Regions from separate parts of the Homo sapiens genome. Here region 2 is linked to region 1. Evidence: fine-mapped expression QTL. Tissue or cell type: whole blood. Region 1 holds a variant in brackets; the other region holds the start of a gene. All regions are shown on one strand. Distances are from middle to middle.

Evidence for each region. PIP is the estimated chance that this variant, and not a neighbour inherited with it, causes the effect.
Region 2: it holds the start of SIAH2, and the variant in region 1 is fine-mapped to the expression of SIAH2 in whole blood (TOPMed, PIP above 0.99).

What each region holds. Positions count from the first base shown.
Region 1 is chr3:150,732,413-150,743,213 of GRCh38, reverse strand. It overlaps LOC101928105 (a long non-coding RNA gene), which reads left to right and starts at 4,229. Exons shown (of 3, transcript NR_121657.1): 1 at 4,229-4,363; 2 at 6,699-6,872; 3 at 8,350-8,743. SIAH2 (siah E3 ubiquitin protein ligase 2) reads left to right here. Exons shown (of 2, transcript NM_005067.7): 2 at 516-2,089. The coding sequence ends at 1,073. RefSeq lists a silencer at 2,268-2,347 and a cis regulatory region at 9,217-9,908. The variant C/T (reference allele first, on the strand shown) is at 4,740.
Region 2 is chr3:150,757,067-150,766,785 of GRCh38, reverse strand. SIAH2 (siah E3 ubiquitin protein ligase 2) reads left to right here and starts at 3,617. Exons shown (of 2, transcript NM_005067.7): 1 at 3,617-4,353. The coding sequence starts at 3,937. SIAH2-AS1 (SIAH2 and CLRN1 antisense RNA 1) reads right to left here and starts at 4,849. Exons shown (of 3, transcript NR_187306.1): 1 at 4,806-4,849; 2 at 4,379-4,447. RefSeq lists enhancers at 2,622-2,681, 3,200-4,146, 5,963-6,062, 7,297-7,356 and a silencer at 3,192-4,091.

The DNA of each region.
Region 1 (10,801 bases):
CACGGCCTGCCTGCCAGTCACCAGTTTGAGCCAGAAAGCAGTGGAGGGGGACGACAGAATTATACTGTTGTTAATATTGTCTATATGTGAAAACTAATCTTGGGATAATATAATATTCCTTGCCCAACCCCATCCCCACCACCCAAGCAATTGAATTCTTTAAAAAACAGCTTCACAGAAAATATGGGGAAGACCAGCTTTTATAGGGCTTGCTCAACAATTTTGAGATGTGCACAGTAAGAGAACTTTAGTTCTGATCCCTTTGACAGCGGAACAGGGGGCATGGAAAACAGCGTATTTCTGGTTCAGGAAATACCCTTCATTTTATGCATGACAGCATTGATGATGAATAGAGACGGAGACTTTTAGTCTTGAATATTTCACTTGCTTTGAGCAAAAGTAGTTAAGAACACAGTTTAAGCCCAGGAAAATGGAGTAGTTAAGTACTCATAGAGGGTTGAAGCAATAGAAGTTTTGAGAAGGCCCAATGGCTCAATGCATTTCTTTCTTTGCAGTATGCCACCACGGGCTGTTCCCTGACCCTGCACCATACGGAGAAACCAGAACATGAAGACATATGTGAATACCGTCCCTACTCCTGCCCATGTCCTGGTGCTTCCTGCAAGTGGCAGGGGTCCCTGGAAGCTGTGATGTCCCATCTCATGCACGCCCACAAGAGCATTACCACCCTTCAGGGAGAAGACATCGTCTTTCTAGCTACAGACATTAACTTGCCAGGGGCTGTCGACTGGGTGATGATGCAGTCATGTTTTGGCCATCACTTCATGCTGGTGCTGGAGAAACAAGAGAAGTACGAAGGCCACCAGCAGTTTTTTGCCATCGTCCTGCTCATTGGCACCCGCAAGCAAGCCGAGAACTTTGCCTACAGACTGGAGTTGAATGGGAACCGGCGGAGATTGACCTGGGAGGCCACGCCCCGTTCGATTCATGACGGTGTGGCTGCGGCCATCATGAACAGCGACTGCCTTGTTTTCGACACAGCCATAGCACATCTTTTTGCAGATAATGGGAACCTTGGAATCAATGTTACTATTTCTACATGTTGTCCATGATGTGACTTTCGTAAACCTTCAAAATTATTTGGGCATAGTGCTCTATGTTTAATAAAGGTTTTTATAGATGTTTTATTCCATATGTCTTCACAAGTCAGGACCCACAATTACCCGTGTTTTGTTTGAACAGCAGTGTCCCATCTGGCTTCGACCCAACAAAGTTCATTAACCTGGGATGAATGGGGTTGGCCTGTTGGTGATTTGGATGCTGTTCTGTGATCTAAAACAACTCTTATTGAATTGTATTTACTCCCTAAACAACACTTGACAGGCTGTTGCACAGGGCTTCTATAGATCAGTGTGTTAGGAATGGGAGGCCCCTTCCTGCCTGCCTTCCCATATTGGTCCCTTGACATTGACAAAAGCACAGTGACTGTCAGCAGATTCCTTTACTTTTGTTTGTGGGAGGTAGGAATTGTTTTAATGCATTTTAAACAGTGTTTCTGAAATTGGATGGCTGGCTAATAGACACTGAATCACCCGGAGTGCTTATCTTAAAATTGCAGATTTAGGGAGCCTGCCAATTTAACAGTCTCATCAGGTGATTCTTTTCAACAGTAATGTTTGAGAATTACTGGGTTAAATTGTGGGAAAGGGTCCAGATTTTAAAGGTGCTTTAAGGTTGCCCTCTGCCGATACTGTTTGTCTTTCTACTGTTTCATCCCCTAACTTCCCCCAACCCTCAAATTAAAACTAGAACTATAGATCCACATGAACGCACGCCTGAGATTTGGCCACTCACCTATGTTTTGGGTGGATTGCCTAGGAAAGCAAGTCATATGGCCATTGATAGTTCTCATGTAATTAGTTTTGCTCACCACTAGTACAGATGACCCGTTTACACGTGGCTTCCCTCGGAAGCCCTCCTCAACAGTAGCTGGTGTGAAAGACTAAATCAGTAGAGTTGGAAAAGCTTTATAACCGGTGTGTCATATGCTTGCTATTTAAAGCTGTGTGTTGGTTTTGTTTTTCTGCCACATTCACTAGTTTTTTAATAAATATTTTCCAAAAATGGATATTGTGCTTCATTTCCCTAATTGAGTAATGGGTATTTATTGAGCATCTACTGTGTGCAAGTGCAATGAACCTTCGTCACTACATCTGGGGTTGGAACTTTCACTGTTTGTTTCCACTGTGGAAACAGTCATTGGGCCAAGGTCATGGCACGGGTCCATGACAGCACTGGGGTCCGGGCTCATGTGTCTGAACCACTGACTGTCAGTGCTGCAGGTCTCCTCCCAGGGCTGTCGTTTCTATCTGACAGTGCCAGTACCTGTGCAATAAGAGGATTGCTCCAGCTTTACAGAGTCAGAAGGAAGACGCTTGGCCACTGCTGACATCCAGAGTGCTGGCGTTGATCCAAGCTGACCCACTCCCTCAGTCCCAACCCTAAACTCTCAAAAGAATTTAGAGGATTAGGGCCAAATGCTCAGCAAGGATTGAAGGCTGCTTACCTCAGTGTCCCAATTTCTTTCTTTTTTTTTTTTTTTTTTTTTGAGACAGAGGCTGGAGTGCAATGGCACTCACTGCAATCTCTGCCTCTAGGTTCAAACAATTCTCCTGCCTCAGCCTCCCAAGTAAGTGGGACTAGAGGCCTATGCCACCACACCCAGCTAATCTTTGTATTTTTAGTAGAGATGAGGCCAGACTGGTCTCGAACTCCTGACCTCAAGTGATCCACTTGCCTCGGCCTCCCAAAGTGCTGGGATTAAGGCATGAGCCACCACACCCAGCCCTCAGTGTCCCAATTTCATTAGCATACTACCAAATGGAGGTGATGGCTTTGGAGTTGATTTTGTTTTTTAAGTGAGATACAGCGTTGAGTTTTTAGCCAGCACAGGGCTCTGACATTTAAAGAATTGCTAAAGTAACCTCTTCTGTAAAAGTGAAAAACGGTGCCCTACACAAAAGTAGGGGTTTACAACATCTGTGGTGAATGAATAAAAACCACAACTCTTATCACTAAGAAAGTCACATTTCAAGTCCATATACAGAGGAACCTATGAAGGTGAAACTAGGATCCAGGAGCAGATGAACTCTGACCCTCAGGACCAGAGCCAGTCCAGATATGGCCTCCAGGGCCCTCACGGCACCCATGCAAGGTGCAGTGTGCATACACTAGCCAAGCTTGGCAGCATCACTTCATGTCCACGGCTTACCCTCTTACTACGTGTGGTAGAGGAATCAGGACTGATTGGTTAACAGTGCATAAAACGCAAACCTATAAACAAAAGACATAAAGAAGGAGAAAGTGGACACAAGTTATTCCAAAAGCACAAAAAGAGTTTTAGCCCAAAAAGGTAAAGTGATGGGCCAGCAGCCACACAGTGCATTACTGGCAGCACTGGTTCTATAATTCAGGCTTCTTGATTCCCCATTCAAACTTGCTCCTAGAACTTAACAAATGAAAAAGTTGTAAGCAACGCAACTCTGAACTTTTATTTTCCAGAGTTACGTAGTTCCCTTTCATCTCTGTCACTGGAAATCTGTAAACTTAACCTTTACTCTTGACTTTCTTGAAACTGTGCATTTTCTACCAGAAAATAAAAATCCCCAGGTTATTCCGTTTTAACAGGAAGTGAAAACAGCAGAAAAAGATTATGTAAATTAAAATGCCTTTTTATGCAGTTCCAATTGCAAATGCAATTTAAAACATGATGAGTATATTCCTTGACTTGTTGCTTTTAAAAAAAGTGAGAAAAAAAAAGAAAAGTAATGATAGGCATTTGTCAAAACTCATCACGTGGTCCACTTAAGTACCATATTTTAAAAAATAAAATAAGAATATTTTATCTTTCCTGTCCTAGTTCAATATTCTAATTTGGTAATCTGGCGATTAAACGATGGTAGATTAAGCCTGTGTCTTATGACGCATGAGTCATTCTAAAGAAAAAAGGGTTCTCAAAATACCTTGGGAGAAAATGTTAACAGTCATTAATTCTGGGTGCCTAGAACCTGGGTATATGGTATATTATTAATTGCATTGTTCTACGTTTTTAATTTTTTTCAAAAAACCAACCAACCTTGAGATTAGGGGTTCCCAGCGTTCTTGTAAGGAGGAACTGGTCTTGGTTTCCCTGAATCCAGAAGACTTAAAGGATTGAGACAGTGGAGTTCTTAGAGGGAACTGTCCAGGGGATTATGGGAAATACTTCGGAGAAGAGGCACCGAAGCATCAACTATCTTGGAACTCTGCCAACTAGAACCTCGGCCTCAACTGACACATCCAAACTAATGGCTGAGTGTCTTTTTTAGCAGCATCAAGCAACTCCTTTACAATACCACCCAAAGTAATTTTCCTGAAGAAATTCTCCTTGTATCTAACTTCATTCAGGTTCTTGGGGCTTGCCAAATAGCCAGCAATGTGACCTTAACTTGGTCAGTTGACATCTCTGGTCTTAAGTTTCCTAATCTGCAACATTTGAAGGTTTATTTTCTAAACGTTTTTACTTTAGTACTAATTTCTGTGAGACAATCAAGCTATTCAATGTTAGGTTGAGGTATGTAAATCATTCCTGCCAGCCTTTGTACGAGGTGGTTCTGGTATCACTGTGGCCCAGCATGTGTCTGTCTATCAGTGTTGGCAGGTGAGTCATGCTCCAGCTACCTCTCAGATTCCCATGGTTTAGAGCTAGGGGTGGTGCCTGGGTAGAGAGACCAGTTTTG[C/T]TTTGTGGCTCTGGCTTGAGAGGCCTGTGGCCTTGAACCTTCCTGATTCATGCAGGCTGTGCTTGAAAGTATGATTATAATTTCACTGACCTGTGAAAGGGAGGCAAGAGTGCTTAAAGGGAGAAATCTAATTCCCCATATTGTTAAACCTTCTTCTAATTTGAAGCTTAAAATCTCTTATTTGTGAATACCGTTAATGTGTCTTGGAGTCTTCAAATGACAAGCAGAAAGAACCTTGATCCCATTGACACCAACACCCACCACCACTACCATTTTACAGAATAAACAAGTAAGACCTACAGAGGGAAACACACTGGCCCCAAACCACACTGCTGATTAGAATTTTCTGTGATGATGACATGGTGTCTTCTGTATTGAGTAAAAGGGAAAAAATTACAAAACAGCTTAAAGTACAAGCCAACATTTTACCATGACTAAGGGAAGTGGCTCCCAGTCTTGATTCCCCATTTCCATTGCCACCATCTGGGCCAGGACCACTGTTGGGGCTCCTAACTGTTTGTCCTCCTTCTTCCTGCCTGCTCCAATGTATTCTACACATAGGCAGAGGCTCTTTTGACATGAAAATCATTGGCATCACAGCTCTTCAATATTCTCTTGCGGTGCACCCTATTTCTTTTCCTTCATGGCACCACAATTGTGATTACATATTTTTTTTTATTGTTCAGCGCCTGCCTCCCCTTGACAACCTGCAGGGTAATAGAGACAATGAAGTCCCTGGCACCTAGGCACCCAATTAATATCTGAATGAATAAATAACTACTAACAGGCTAGTGTGAGAGCAGCATTGAAGTCAACACTTTAAGAGTTAAGGTTTTCTGGTTTTGTACCAAAAGTCCCTGGGGAAATTACGCAAGTAGGCAGGGAACAGAGATGGGGAGATAATCTAACAATCCAGAGAAGGGAAGAAACAAAGGGTTTCTCTGCCCCTGTCATCCTCCAGGCAAGGTCACTAAGGCTGGTTTGAAGTTTCTGTGCCTTGAAATTTCTTATGTCATGGAGTCACCTGACATTCAGATCAAAGGCCGACTCCGCTCTATGTTTGATGATCCTTGCAGCAAGCACAGATCAAGGTTCCTGTGACCTGCAGCAATTGGATTACAAGATTAGATCAATTTGCAAAGTACACCAAGATCACAGCAGTTGCCATCCATTAGGTACCTATCGTGTGCAAAGTGCTTTGTCTGTATTAACCCATTTAATCCTCTCAATAAAATAAGCAGTGTTTATTATCCCCATTTTGGAGTCGAGGAAATGAAGGCTCAGAGAGATTAAGTAATTTGCCTACACTCACACAGCTGGTAAGAAACAGAATTGGAATATGAACCCATCGTGGAGTCCATGCCCCTTCACCATATCACGTGATCCATCATTATTCTTATTTGGCTTTCACATATTTTGACCATCAGCAGAAATATTGCTTACTTGTAACAGATAAAGATGAACAAGATGGAGGGGTGCAGGATGCTTGGTGAATACAGAACATACCACCTGTGCTTTGGAACTGCCTTCCCCACTGTCATGGCATGCTAGAAGGGGATGGAGACCTAGAAATCGTTCAGACCCTCACTAGTTAAAGTGTGGTCCGTGCACCAGCGGCATCAGCATCACCTGGGAACTTGTCAGAAATGCAGCATCTCAGCCTCCACCCCAGACCTCCTGACCAGAATCCGCATTTTAACACAGTATGCAGGTGATGTGGATGCATGTTCAAGTTTGGGAAGCACTGGTTGGATCAAAGGTTATCACCCCACACGTCCTTTGGAATCATGTGGGGAACTTTAAAGAATGCCAGGACCTAAGTTAGAATTCTTGGCAGTAAGGCTGAGCTTCTGTGTGCTTTTTAAAGCTTCCCAGAAGGGACCAGCACACAGTCAGGGTTGAGAACCTCTGACCCAGTCCAACCTCACTGCCTCATTTTCTCTTGTATTTCTCATACAGCCGCTGAGACAAGTGATGTCACCTGCCAATACTGTAGATTGAATAACCAGGGAAGGCTGAGGAATGCAAGTGAATGTAAAAACCACCTGGAGGGAAGCATTGCAGCAAGAAAGGAACAGCAAGTGCAGAGGCCTGAGGCAGAACCAGCAGGGAAAATGCTTTGAGGTGAGGCAGGTAAGGAGCTAGAGCCTTGCCCTGTGAGGCCAGCTAGGGGTCTGGCTTTCTTTCCAGGTACAATGGGAGGCCACTGGAAAGTTTCAAGGAGCATGGATGATGGGATTCGGGTTTTTAAAAAGAGCTGTAGCTGTTCAATTAAAACAAAACAAAACAACAAAAACAATGATTATAAAGGGCAGGAATGGAAGCATTTTGGAAGCTATTGCATTTCACCCAGTGAAAGATAATTATGGCTTGGACAGAGTGAGCAAAGGTAGAGATTAACAGAAATGGGCATATTTGGGCTATGTTTTCAAGGTAGAGTTAACAGGAGTTGCTAAAAAGTTGGATGGGTGGGAGAGGGGTGATGATTATAGGAATAAGGAAAAGAGAGAATCAAGGATGATCACTCCTAGGCTCTCATCCTGAGTAAATGGGTAAGAAGTTCCATGTATTGGGGCAGAGACTAGTGAAGGAGCCAGCATAGGGCAGAAATCTAGAGAGACACATGGCTGAAGACATCAACCAGACAGTTGTTTGTATGAGCTTGGAGCTCTGAGGAAAGGCCAGGATGGAAATACCAAAATGTGTGCACCATCACTATATGTATGGTGTTTAAGCTGTGGGGTGGAAGTGAGAAGACCCCGGGGTTTGGGCAATGGAGGGAGGTGCATACAGGCAGAAAAGAGGGTGGGACTCAGGCCTATCTCCTGGGACTGCCAACCTTTTAGAGGTCACATGAGGAGCCAGAGCCTGGAAATGAGGGTGGATAGAAGAAGTGGCCATCAAGATGAGGGGAACTCCTAGACAGTACGGCATCACAGAACCCCAGGAAAAAAATCTGGCTCAAGTAGAACAGAGGAGTTAGCCACTGAGAAGACAATCGAGGTCATGGCAAGATGTCAAGAGCAGTCTCATGGAGTGGAGAAGACAGAAGCCCAGAGGAGAGCAGGTGAGGGAGAGAACAGGGCATGGGTGAGGAGAGGAGGCAGGAGCTATAGCTATAGAGCTATAGACAAGTTGCTATAGACAAGGCTTTTAAGAAGTTCCGCAGAGAAGACGTAGAGAAATGAAGCAGTTGCTGCAGGAGAATAGTGGGATCAATGAAAGATTTTTTTGTGTTTTAAAAATTGGAGCCACTAGAGCATGGCACTGTGCCAATGGGAAGGATCCAAAAGAGAGAGCGAAATGGATGATGTGGAGAAGGAGGCAATCACAGCGGGGGCAAAGTAATCAGAAAGACAAGTTTCCAGGGCAGATTACTTACTTATGCAGTAGAGATGGTCAGGAAGCAGCCATTATTGAAATAGAGAGAGGTGGGAAAAAAATTGTGCCAACAAGCAAGGGTTGAAGCAAATTATGTTTAGAAGGCCCTGGTGAGGGCGTCTGTGCATATCCAGCCCTGAACAGGAGAAAGGCACTGGCTGCAGCTCAGTCTAGAACATCCCAGGCATCTGAGAGGTTTACACCTTAGCAAGCTGTGGTGTTTTTCTAGGTTCCATGAAAACCTGGAAGAAATATTCCTGAGGACCATCCAACACCATTTCCCTGAGAGACAAGCTGTAAGTGCTGTTCTAGTTACAGATCCGAGTCCCTGGTACATTGATATCAAGTAAGGGTGCATGCAGCTCAGAAGGCAGTTTCCATTACACTGGACAAGAGTGTGGCTGCCTGAGTCCTAGAACTGCAGTGGCTTCTGCTGACAATGTGAGGAGTAGCTGCCCTGTCCAGAGTGTGGCCCCGCACGCTGCCCCCTCCCCTGGAGGGACTGAAGAGAACAGCTTGGAGCATGCCCTTCCCTTTCCCTTATCTCGCCCACTATGCTAATGCTGCTCATCCCTCAAGATCCGAGTTATTCCTCCTCAATTCAATACACACCAATCAACTGCCCTGTGCTTGGTCCTGTACTTTATATCCTTGATATGGTTTAATTTTCAAAACAAAACACCTTGAGGTGGGTATTATCACTCCCATTAACAAACAAGAAGGTGGGGGCTCAGAGAGGCTAAGTAACTTGCCCAAAGTCACACAGCTTGTAAGCAGTGAAAATGGGATTTACACTCAGGAATGTAGCCCTTCCAACAGCCCTGCTGCCTGCAAAAGTGACTCAGATATGGACTTTACAGTCTAGCAGAAGTCTGAAAGCATCAAACAAAGAGGCAACTTACAGTAGCATGAAATATGCAACCACAACTACATCAACTATGTTTGCAAAGCAAGTTAAGACAAGGACGTACAAATTGCTATGGAGTTCAAAAGAGGATTGGAAAAGGCTTCCGGGAGAAAGCAGCGCGTGCATTGGGCCTTGGGTGTTGGGTAGGTTTTTGCAAGGCTGAGGTAGTTAGGAGGATGTGCCAAGAGATCAGCCTCTCCTGGATCAAGACCAAACCACTCAATGCCTAAGTCCAGCCTTGTCCACCTCCCATCCACTTCTCAGGGCTATTCTTCTCTCACACTTCCTTTGTTCCCGCGTTCCTGACACCCACACAAGGTCAGACACGTAGAACGTGCCGAGTGAATATCAAAGTTCAGCAGTGTCTTGTCTGGTCCCTAATTCTAATCTATCCTTTAACCCATCCTCATACTAGCTAAATTTCAGGACGAACCCTGTCCACAATAAAAACTACTTCTTCTAGAGAATTTGCCCTGCCCATAGTTCCTGGAACACCCCATGCAAACCCCCCACTAATTCACACACCCACAAACTTGTAATGCAGGCCACAGCTGATAAGACCTTACCCAGGCCAGCGGTTCATTGGCTGAGCAGCCACCAGTCAGATTCTCTTGAGAGAGTCAAAGACAGTCAGTGGTGTGCACCAGAGTCACACAGCCCTGGAAAGTCAGCACACTAGCAAAGGAAAAGCCTTGATAGCAAGAGGCCCCTAGGGGTGGAGGGAGCAGCCACTGCCGCCCACCCTGCCAGGTCCTAATCCCTCCCCAGGGAGCCCAGAAACACTCCATTTCCTGCTTTGAGGCATCTTGGAGACAGCCTGCTGTGCCTTCACAATTAATTCTTCTTATCACTTTTTTTTTCAATTTTAGACCATATTTATTCACTCCCACCACCAAAATTGAAGAAAGTAACACACAAAGTTTCTCCCTCCTTCTAATTTTGCTTAATTTTATGATTATTGCTGTCAAGATGTATAACTTTTTTTTTTTTTTTGAGATGGAGTCTCTCTCTGTTGCCCAGGCTGGGGTGCAGTGGTGCCATCTTAGCTCACTGCAACCTCCGCCTCCCGGGTTCAAGCGATTCTCCTGCCTCAGCCTCCGAGTAGCTGGAATTACAGGCACCTGCCACCATGCCCGGCTAATTTTTGTATTTTTAGTAAATACAGGGTTTCACCATGTTGGCCAGGGTGATCTTGAACTCCTGACCTCAAGCAATCCACCCGCCTCAGCCTCCCAAACTGCTGAGATTACAGGCGTGAACCACTGCACCCAGCCAAGATGTATAACTTTTAAAAAAACATTTTATTAGTAAATTTTCAAAAGGAAGGAGAATAATATAACGAATTCGATGTGTTATCACCAACTTCAACCATTATCAACTCTTGGCCAGCTGTCCTGCATCTATACCCTCACCTACATCCACGTGTGGATTTCTTTGAATCAAATCCCAGGCATCATATCATTTCATCTGTATATGTTTCAGTATAGAATATCTAAAGATTAGGACTTTGAAACATACTCACAATACTGTTTTTATATCTATAAAAATTATAAATTTTAATATAATCAAATATCCAGTCAGAGGTCACATTTCTCTGGTTGATATACAGTCTGTTTGAACTGGGATACATATATAAGATCCTTACATTGCTACTGATAAAATGCTTATGTCTTTTTTAATCTACAGATTCTCCCTCCATCTCTTCTCCTTTCTTGAAGTTATTTATTGAAAAACCCAGGGTTCCTATAGCAGAGTTTCCTATAGTCTCATTGCA
Region 2 (9,719 bases), 24 kb before region 1:
AGTTTGAGCATTTGGAAATTACCCCAGAAACAGATGAAGTTAAAAGTTCCTACTATAATTACCAGGGGGCCTTACATCACCTCCAGATTTCCCACAAGCTTCCCCTGATGAGGAATTTCCATGCAGCAAGCTCCAATGCATACCTGAGTCATCTCTAAAAAGCCAACCACAATTTGCTCTGCAAATGCACATTTGCCTGATGGCAGAAGTTGCCTGATTTGCAAAACCACACAATTTGTAAGTTACAGAAAAAAGGGCAAGAGCTTGTCTGCCTAGCTGGAGCATTTCTCACTGTGCTCAGCAGTTTAGTGAAATTAGGAACTCACCTGTGAGGTGTTTTTTTTAAGACTCACCCTGCTATTTTAAGGAAAGAAAAGGCTACTCAGTACACCCCTAGTCTTTCAAGCTTAGCATAGAGCAGATGGGTTAAGGAGAGGTGTCCTGCTTGACATATGCAATCTGGGACTCAGTAGGTGGGCGAATGAGACCAACCTCTCATACAGTAGATGTGGTAAATGAGTCATGAATCAGGAGATAACAAAAGGCTGGACCCTGCTCCCCCAGACCACAAAGTCACTCACTAAACAGGCCAAGAAGCAGCAGCGACACTCCAAAGGGTAAATAAACCTCCCAACAACTCAACTCAGCACACATTTTGAGTACACGCTAAATTCGACCTCTGAGCGGACTGCCCGCTGGAAGAGGAGGCTCTAGCTCATAGTGCCCGGTATGCAAAGGTCACCTTTCTTTGTTTCAAAAGTCACCAAGGAAGGAGGAAGAAGAAAGGCGACTGGGAAGACCAGCCTGGTCATTGATGTGGCTCACATAGCAGACCTATCCACTCTCCCCCTGCCTACCTTCAGCAACTGCCCAGAGTTTTTTTGTTTTGCTTTTGTATTTTAATTACCCTGGTTGACTTAATCAGGTGTGCAATGATGTGAAGGAGGAAGAAAGAAGAAATTTCTCTATACCAGGGGAGGCATCTGCCAGGGTAAGAGTGGATGGGTTCGCTGTATTTTTAGAAAAATAAACCAAATTCTCTCTGCAGAGAATTGCTTTTCCTGTTATTTCTTTCAACACCTCCCAAACCAAATTGTTTTCTGAATGACCAGGGCCTATCTAGCTGGAACACTTAAAGCTCGTGTCAATGGGGCAAGGGTGAGGACTCCAGTCTCCTAATGAGAGCTAGTAAGAAGCCGTGGGGATGGAGGTCATCACACAGAGAGGCTAGAAGTGGAAGGAAAGAAAATGTGTTCCATTAATAAATTCCAAATGCTTTGATTTTAAATTAAGAATGAAAAATATTACATTTCCTCCAATAACAGTAAAACAGTAGGTGATTTTTGTGTTATCACTTATATTTTGTGTCATAAAAAGGTGAAAATGAAATAAATAGAACATGATTTAATTTTTCTCTCTAGACCAGCTAAGGAAAGAGTTTATGTAAAGTTTGCCCACAAAATTTAGTGCTTTATTATAGGCTGAACAACTGTTTTCTGACTCTGTTGAGTGTGCTAATCTTAACTGTTTAACAAGACTGTAAGTAGGAATCAGGCATAATTTAGAGGCATACAGACTAGTAGTTAAGAAGGGCTCCTAGCGTGTTCCCACATTCTCAGCTGTGTGATCTTGAGCAAAGTAACCTATGTCTCGGTTTCCTCAACTGTAAAATGGAGATAACAGTAGTATTCATCACAGAGAGTTATGATAAATACTTAAAACTATCCATGCCCAACATACAGTGGGCACTCAATTAACATTAGTTATTATTTTATGCTCCCTACCTATCCAAAAACTCAGGTTCAGCCATGTTACTAAAGAGCTTCCAAAAACCTACAAAACCTAGTGTTGTTGTGTGTTCTTAAAAAAACAAACAAAACCCTACAGTGGTTTACCCCTATCATTGAGGTAAATGTCTTATTAAGCCAGTTGAGGCTCCCCTTGTGCTAACGCCACACCCCTACACTCCCGTTATATCCCCTCCAAGTCCCAATGCAATCCCAGAATACATGCTTTCACTCTGTGCTTTTTAGCTCCTGCTATAATGCCTGCCCACCCCGTGGTATCTGAAATCCTTCTTCTCCCACGAGTGCTTGGTTATTGGGCCTTGCTCTCTTACTAGAATGTAAACTGCATGAGAACCATTCTCAGAGCTCCAACAGTAGCTGACACATGATAAATGCTCAGGAAACATTTACTGAACGATTGAATACACCTATTAAGTTTTTTCAAGATTTATACCAAATTCCATCAATTCCATGCATGTATTCTTTCTACAGAAGCCCTTTGTAAGATTAAACTTTATTTCTTCTGGGCTCTTACGCCATATTTCTTGGACAAATTGTATTCATTCATTTTAAACATCCACTAATATTTTTAAAAGATAAGAGCTAATGTTTAAACAGTGCTTATGATGGGCGAGGTTGTTTTAAAAGCTTGAAATATATTAAACTCATTTACTCCTCACTGCCCCACCTATAAGATAGGTATTTTTTTTTCCACTTTTACAGTTGGAGGGAACCATTTTTCACTCAGTCCTAACAGTTGGTCCTTACCTCTGTGTCTCCTATAAATTTCCGATTTCTACCTAAGGTAACCCTTTCCCCAATTCCGGAATCGTTGGCTCAAGCAAAGTCTGCAGAAAAACAATTTTAACTCGGAGCACACAGTTACATTTGGACATGCGGTTCACCCCGGGCAACCGTGCCCTCTAGCGCTTCTGCTGGGCGCGCAGGGTGGCCCTACGCCTCGCAACAAAGACTCGGACTTCGGCCGGCTCTCTACCAAGCGGACGCAGCGCCTTACACTGGAGTTTCACCCACTGTCTTCAGAGACCTCACGACCCAACCTACGTTTCTGACATTTCTAGATGATCTCGAACTCTTAGCCAACGCTGCCCATGAGCTCCCTCCTCGGCCTGCTATACGAGCCAGGGGCGCTCAATTCAACGAAGCTTCCTCCTGGTCCGCTGGGAAAGGAATAAAGGGAGCTTACATCCTCCCCACCGCCCCCCTCTTTACTCAACCCCACCGTTAACTGTACAAAACTAGGTCCTGTGCCCGCTGCAGACCCAACTCGAGCCCCTCGCCCTGCTCCCACCCAATGCTTCTCGTCCTGACTCCGAACACAGAACGCGGGTGGCCGCTTCGCCCTCTTCTCCTGCGTGCTGGTGACTCAGCCCTGAGAAGAGAAACCTCTCGGTTTTTTCCGACTAGTGCAGGGGCGCCCGCGCCCCGCCCCTGCCCGCCCGCGTCCGGTCCCACCCACCGTCCACGCTCCCGCCCCGCCTGAAGTTGCCTTTCTCGTTTGAGCTGAGGGACGCGTCAGCCAGGCACCCCGGGGTGTGGCCAGAGGACTTCGGCGACGCTTCCCCGAGAGTAGCCCCCCTCCTCAACCCAGAAAAGACAACCCCGCGGGGCTGCAGCGAGCCAGGCATGCTCACTGGCGCAGGCCCGGCCCGCAGCCCGAGCAGGAAGCGCCGGCGCTAGGCGGCCCCCTGCGCTGCCAGCTGGAGCCGGGCGGAGCCAGCGCCCCGGCGCAGGGTGGCTCTGCCAGTCCCCGCGCGCCTGGGCGGCCGCACACGTGTCCAGGCGTCACGTCCGCGCGCGCCCCCGGGGCTTGCGTCAGCGGCTGTTCCAGAAGCGGGTGGGCCAGGGCTCTGCGCACCGCTGGGGTTCGGGGCCCGGGACGCCGCCGGGAGGAGGGCACCGCGCGGGGTCCGACGCGGAGGCGTGCTCGGAACGCCGGGGGCTGCGGAGTGCATCAGCGCGGTCCAGCCCTCCGCCTGCCGGGCGCCGAGCGTCTCCGCCGCCCGGACCTGGGCTGGGCGCCGTGGCGTTGCCTCGGAGCTCGCTGCCCGCGGGGCGCGCACCGCCTTGACCCGGGCGGCCCCGCGGCAGGCAGGCGCCCGCAGTTCCATGGTTGGTTCGGAGCGCGATGAGCCGCCCGTCCTCCACCGGCCCCAGCGCTAATAAACCCTGCAGCAAGCAGCCGCCGCCGCAGCCCCAGCACACTCCGTCCCCGGCTGCGCCCCCGGCCGCCGCCACCATCTCGGCTGCGGGCCCCGGCTCGTCCGCGGTGCCCGCCGCGGCGGCGGTGATCTCGGGCCCCGGCGGCGGCGGCGGGGCCGGCCCGGTGTCCCCGCAGCACCACGAGCTGACCTCGCTCTTCGAGTGTCCGGTCTGCTTTGACTATGTCCTGCCTCCTATTCTGCAGTGCCAGGCCGGGCACCTGGTGTGTAACCAATGCCGCCAGAAGTTGAGCTGCTGCCCGACGTGCAGGGGCGCCCTGACGCCCAGCATCAGGAACCTGGCTATGGAGAAGGTGGCCTCGGCAGTCCTGTTTCCCTGTAAGGTAAGCCCAGGGACAGCCCACGTACCTCCGCCGGTGACCTCAGGGACTCCGGTATCCGCCAGCCCACTCGCAGGCCCGGAGAGGCGGGCGGCATCTCTCATTTAAAAAAAAAAAAGAAAAAATGTTTACACTTCGTCCACCCTCCCTCAAGCCCACTTTGGGTGTAGGTCTGGGTTGACATTTACCGAGTAATAATTGTTAATAGACAATTAACAGATTAATTGGCATTTGCTGATCGTTAGAACATCGTAGCTCACCCGGCCCAATGCCCGCGTCCTCTGCAGACGTGTATTCGGGTACTCTCGGTAGGGCTGGGCCGCACCAGTAAAACTTGGACCGAGAAACTGACTGTGTGGGGATTGAGGAGGGAGGAAACGGGCGAGCTAAACGCCCCCTTTACCAGCGCTGGGCTCGGCTGAATTGATAATTGGAGTCCTGCACCCCGCGCCTACCGTCTGCGCACCCCTGACACGTGGGAGCTCTCGGGATTGTAGCTAAAAAAAGGGCGCCTACAGCCTGTTTTCCTCTAGCTAGAAGAAAACCCTGCAAGCCACGCCTTTTTCTCTCCTAGCCTTCCAAAGACTGGGAAGGACTGAGGAGTTGTGGCTGCGTTGTTGTACTAAGTGGGGTGAAAACAGTCAATCAAGAAATTAACAAGGGCACTCAAGAGCTGTTGTTACAGTTGTTTAAAGCTCATCACTTCATTTTTTATTTAATGTAAAAAGTTTTCAATGCCCTTGCGAAAAATGCAAGCCACCAAGACAAGAAGTAAAATGAAAGACCAAGATCTCTCCCCTCCTTTCCCACCATTGTTAGGTTTAGTGTGTATCTTTTTAAACTATATATACATACACCCTCGCAGCTAAATATAGAATCATAGATGTCAGTGTATGTCAGGGAGGTTTTTTAATACCCACACATAGATGTAAGTTTTTCTCCAAAAATGGCATCTGCAACTTGCTGTTCTTAAATTCATATTATCACACATATTTCTCTATGCCTGAAACCTAGTCGACTTCATTGTATTTTAAATGGCTGCATAGTATTGCATTGTGTGGTCATATTATAACATTTGTTTACCTGCAGCTATTACGTGGAAACCTTCAGGAGCAGTTTCACAGACATACTTGTCTACGTTATAACCTAGAAGTATACTGTAAAGTCATTTTCTGAAATTAGAAGTGGAGATAATGTCACTAATACTTTCCAGTTTTTTTGTAAAAGTAACTTGCGCTGCCTCTTGGGCCATTTAAGCTGTCTTGCATTTCTCCTTGGTGCTGCTTATTTTATAGGACAAGAGCTCATTTTTAAATTAAAAATAATCCACCAGAGAATTCAGGCTTGGGACTCAGGTCAGTAAAATGAGTGCTTTAATTTGGTCTGCTGCCCTGCTGCAAATCAGGTTTAAAATAGCATATTTAAATAAGAGTTTGAATCGGTGTTTGGACTAGGGTGTTTCAGGCAACCTTAATAAATTGCTGTTAACCCCTCCTCATATAGTGCTTACTAATTCACTCAGCCCAGTTTCTCAAAATTTAGATAAAGTATTTGCATAGTTGTCTTAGGGTTGTGAAAAAGGTGACAACCTAGTGGTTGGAAAAGGTTTGGTGGTAGTTAACATAGAGTGGCTATTTGATGCTTGAGATATATTGCAGGGGTGGGGGATGCCCCATAGGATTTCTGGGGAGCCATTTTCTCACCCCTTTACTTTCCCTTAAACGCGCAGCGGCTAACAAAAGAAATGGCTTTTAGGTGAGTTTTAGTTCACAAATGAGCATTTGATATTAGTCAGTAATCCATAATTTGTTTTTAAAATGTAACCATAATAGAATTGTGTTGTTCCCAAGAGAAAGGGAAGGAAACAGTTATGCTATATGGAGCATGAAGTTTCACTTTCAGGATCTAGAACTCTGGTTCCTATGAAAGCATACGTTCTTTCCTAACGTGAAACAGGCTACTGAAATCAACCTTGAAGAGTAGTTCTGGGAATCAGGGGTTCTCAGCCTTTCTGTACATGTCAGTGGTTTTCTGAGTCTCTATTCTATAAGAATGCAGTGGGGTAAAGCTATTACTTTGCAAGCTGAAATTTAAAAGGGCCAATTATTCCCCTGCAGACCAAGAACCAAGCTTAGGATGTGATCTTGGGGATGCTTTTGTGTGTGCATGTGTGTGAGTTGTATAAAGCTGGGGTGTGTGTCCCTCACCTTTGGTTGATCAATAATCCAAACTATTGGCAGGGCAGCTCAGCCAGTTAGTCTGGATAAACCAAACTTGAATGTATACATAGGCCCAGCGACCAACCAAGATGTGTTAGTTGTAGAGGATGAGAAACAACAGAGAGCCGTAAGGCCTGTATCAAACTTAAAACAAGGCAGATCTGTTTACCTAGCCCTTTGGCCTACAGTTTGAGGCTCCTAGAAATTATGGGACTGCCTTTTTACTGTCCCCACCTGCTCTCAGAATCTCTCATGGGCTGGCTCATGTGAAAAAAACCAACGTTGAATAAAGTACCAGAGCCCACATCTCAAGAGCTGCCACTGTTTGCCTGAAAGACCACCTCCCAGGGCCTTGATTTCCTCATCTATACAAATGAGAGATGAATCTGCTTGACTTCTAAGGACCTGTAGCTTCTAGCATTCTATGAAAAGAAGGGAGGCTATCTGGAATGTTATTGGATGCCCTCTATCTGCCAGTTACTTTGCAGGGGTCAGCTTTTACTAGTTTGCCTTTTTTTTTTTTCAGATGAGGAAACTCATGCCTACAGAGTGGTTAAATGTGAAGTGACTTGTCAAATCACACAGCTAGTAAGAGGACCAGTCCAAGCACCTGCATCTCAAAGGCACAGATGTTTTGTCCTACACCTTACTACGTAGGGATTTCGAATCTGAGTGTATACTCAAGATTCTGAATCATAACTCAAGGTTGACACCAGTAACAAAACCGTCTGGTTGGATGAGTTCACCAGATGGGCCTCTTATGGGACCATCCCAAAATGACAACATACATACTCACTATGAAATTCATTGGCAGGAATTTTGTAGGGCATGTAGGGTAGGAAGATGGGAGGGTGGGGGAAACCTACAAACCTAGTATTTTGTGGGGTATCATCACAGCTCTGGACTGCTTCAGTTGGCAAAAAAATGGATGTATTGCCAAATAACTATCCCACTTAGGTTTAGGGTAATTAATTAAAGGCTAGAGTGTTGCCAGCACCTTTGATATGGGGAACCGGATGCATTATTAGCTCAGATCTTTGGGTGTGGTGACTCATGCCTGTAATCCCAGCACTTTGGGAGGCAGAGGTGAGCAGATCACCTGAGGTCAGGAGTTCGAGACCAGCCTGGACAACATAGTGAAACCCTGTCTCTACTAAAAATACAAAAATTAGGGCCAGGCGCAGTGGCTCACGTCTGTAATCCCAGCACTTTGGGAGGCTGAGGTGGGTGGATCACCTGAGGTCAGGAGTTTGAGACCAGCCTGACCAACATGGAGAAACCCCGTTTCTACTAAAAATACAAAAAAGTTAGCTGGGCATGGTGGCACATGCCTGTAATATCAGCTACTCAGGAGACTGAGGCAGGAGAATTGCTTGAACCCGGGAGGCAGAGGTTGCAGTGAGCCAAGATCACGTCATTGCATTCCAGCCTGGGCAACAAGAGTGAAACTCAGTCTCATTAAAAAAAAAAAAAAAAAAAATAGCCAGGTGTGGTGGCAGGCACCTGTAATCCCAGCTACTCAGGAGGCTGCGGCAGGAGAATCGCTTGAACCCAGGAGGTGGAGGTTGCAGTGAGCTGAGATTGTGCCACTGCACTCCAGCCTGGGTGACAGAGCAAGACTCTGTGTCAAAAAAAAAAAAAAAAAAATGGAATGTCTAATAGTGTATGGCTTTCTTCCGCTTGGGGTATTTTTTAATCCATTCTGTGGCTTGTTCCATGCCTGAGAACTTTTGACATCCTGTGCCCAGACTTAAACTCACCCCTTCAGTGTGTGGGTTTAGGGGGAGAAGTGAAGGTTGACACATTCATATCAACAACATAGTCTACTTTACCATCCAACGATGTATTTTGATATCAGCCAAGTATTTCTCTCTACAACTGTGAGCAATGCTAATCCACTCCAGCCTTCTTACACTGTAATGATACCTTTTCTTTGTCCTCTCTGAAAGTTTCTAGTAGCATATCTCCAAATAATTATTGAATTTGAAAGCCTCAGCTGGACAAGTCTTCTCTGTGGTTGAATTGTGACAATGTCTGTGTTCCTTAAAAAAATAAAAAATAACATAAAACCAAGTAAGGTTAGACAAAACAGTTGAAAGTTTAAAATCCCTTGGCCTCATCTAGTTCAGTGGAGACAAACTTTCTAAATGGGAGGAGGGCCATGTAATGAGAGGAGAGGAGAGGAGAGAAGTATTTGATGCACTCATGGCCTCAGGGTCAGGGAGACCTGGAGGAGCAGTGGAGATGGTGGAGAGCCAGAGAACAGGTGCCACCTCCCAAGAGGCAGCCTTTACTCACCTCTGGCTGATTGGTGGGGTTGGGGATGTGGGTACAGGCATATCAGACCTTTAGATTTTTTTCAAGAAAAGCCAGAAATCTGGATCTTTTTTTTTTCCTTTAAGAGATGTCATCTCACTATGTTGCCCAGGCTGGTCTTGATACTCCTGAGCTCAAGCAATCCTCCTATCTCGGCCCCCCAAAGTGCTGGGATTACAAGTGTGAGCCACCGTGCCCAGCCTGGATTTTTTTTTTATGTTAAATATCTCGATTTTTTTTCTAGCATTGGCTGACTTCACATGTATAACCACCACTTGCAGACAAAGCGAACCACCACGTCTCCAGGCCAAATTCCAGCTGCCAGCATGCAGCCTCTGATCTGATTCTCTTGTAGAAGCATTCCTTGAGCCTGGAAGTTCTCATTTAACTCTTGCCATACATGAACTTTGGAACTCTGTTAGGCCCTAACTGTTGGTGATTTTGTAGCTTGTTTTCTTTTCATCTTCATTTTGCCAAGAGAATATTATTTTCTGGCCATCAGGAACCCTCAGATGATGGCCTTGTGACTAGATGTTTGACTCTATACAGGTCAGTTTCTTTTTTGCACCTGAGGGTCTTTAAGAGAAGGGATTGGACTAAATGATTATCCCAAGGTTCTTTCTTACCCTAAAATTTTAAAATATAGTAAGCGGTCCCAGTGAAAAGAACGTGAGCCAGGAAACAGAAGACCTGGGTTCTCGTCCTGGCTTTGTGTGACTTTGGTCCAGTCACATACTTCCCTGACCCTGTTTGTTCATCCATTAGAAAGAACGGAGATGACGCCTAGTTAGTGGGTGCTTGGAAATCAGATTAGAAGTGCTGTTGAGGGCTTTT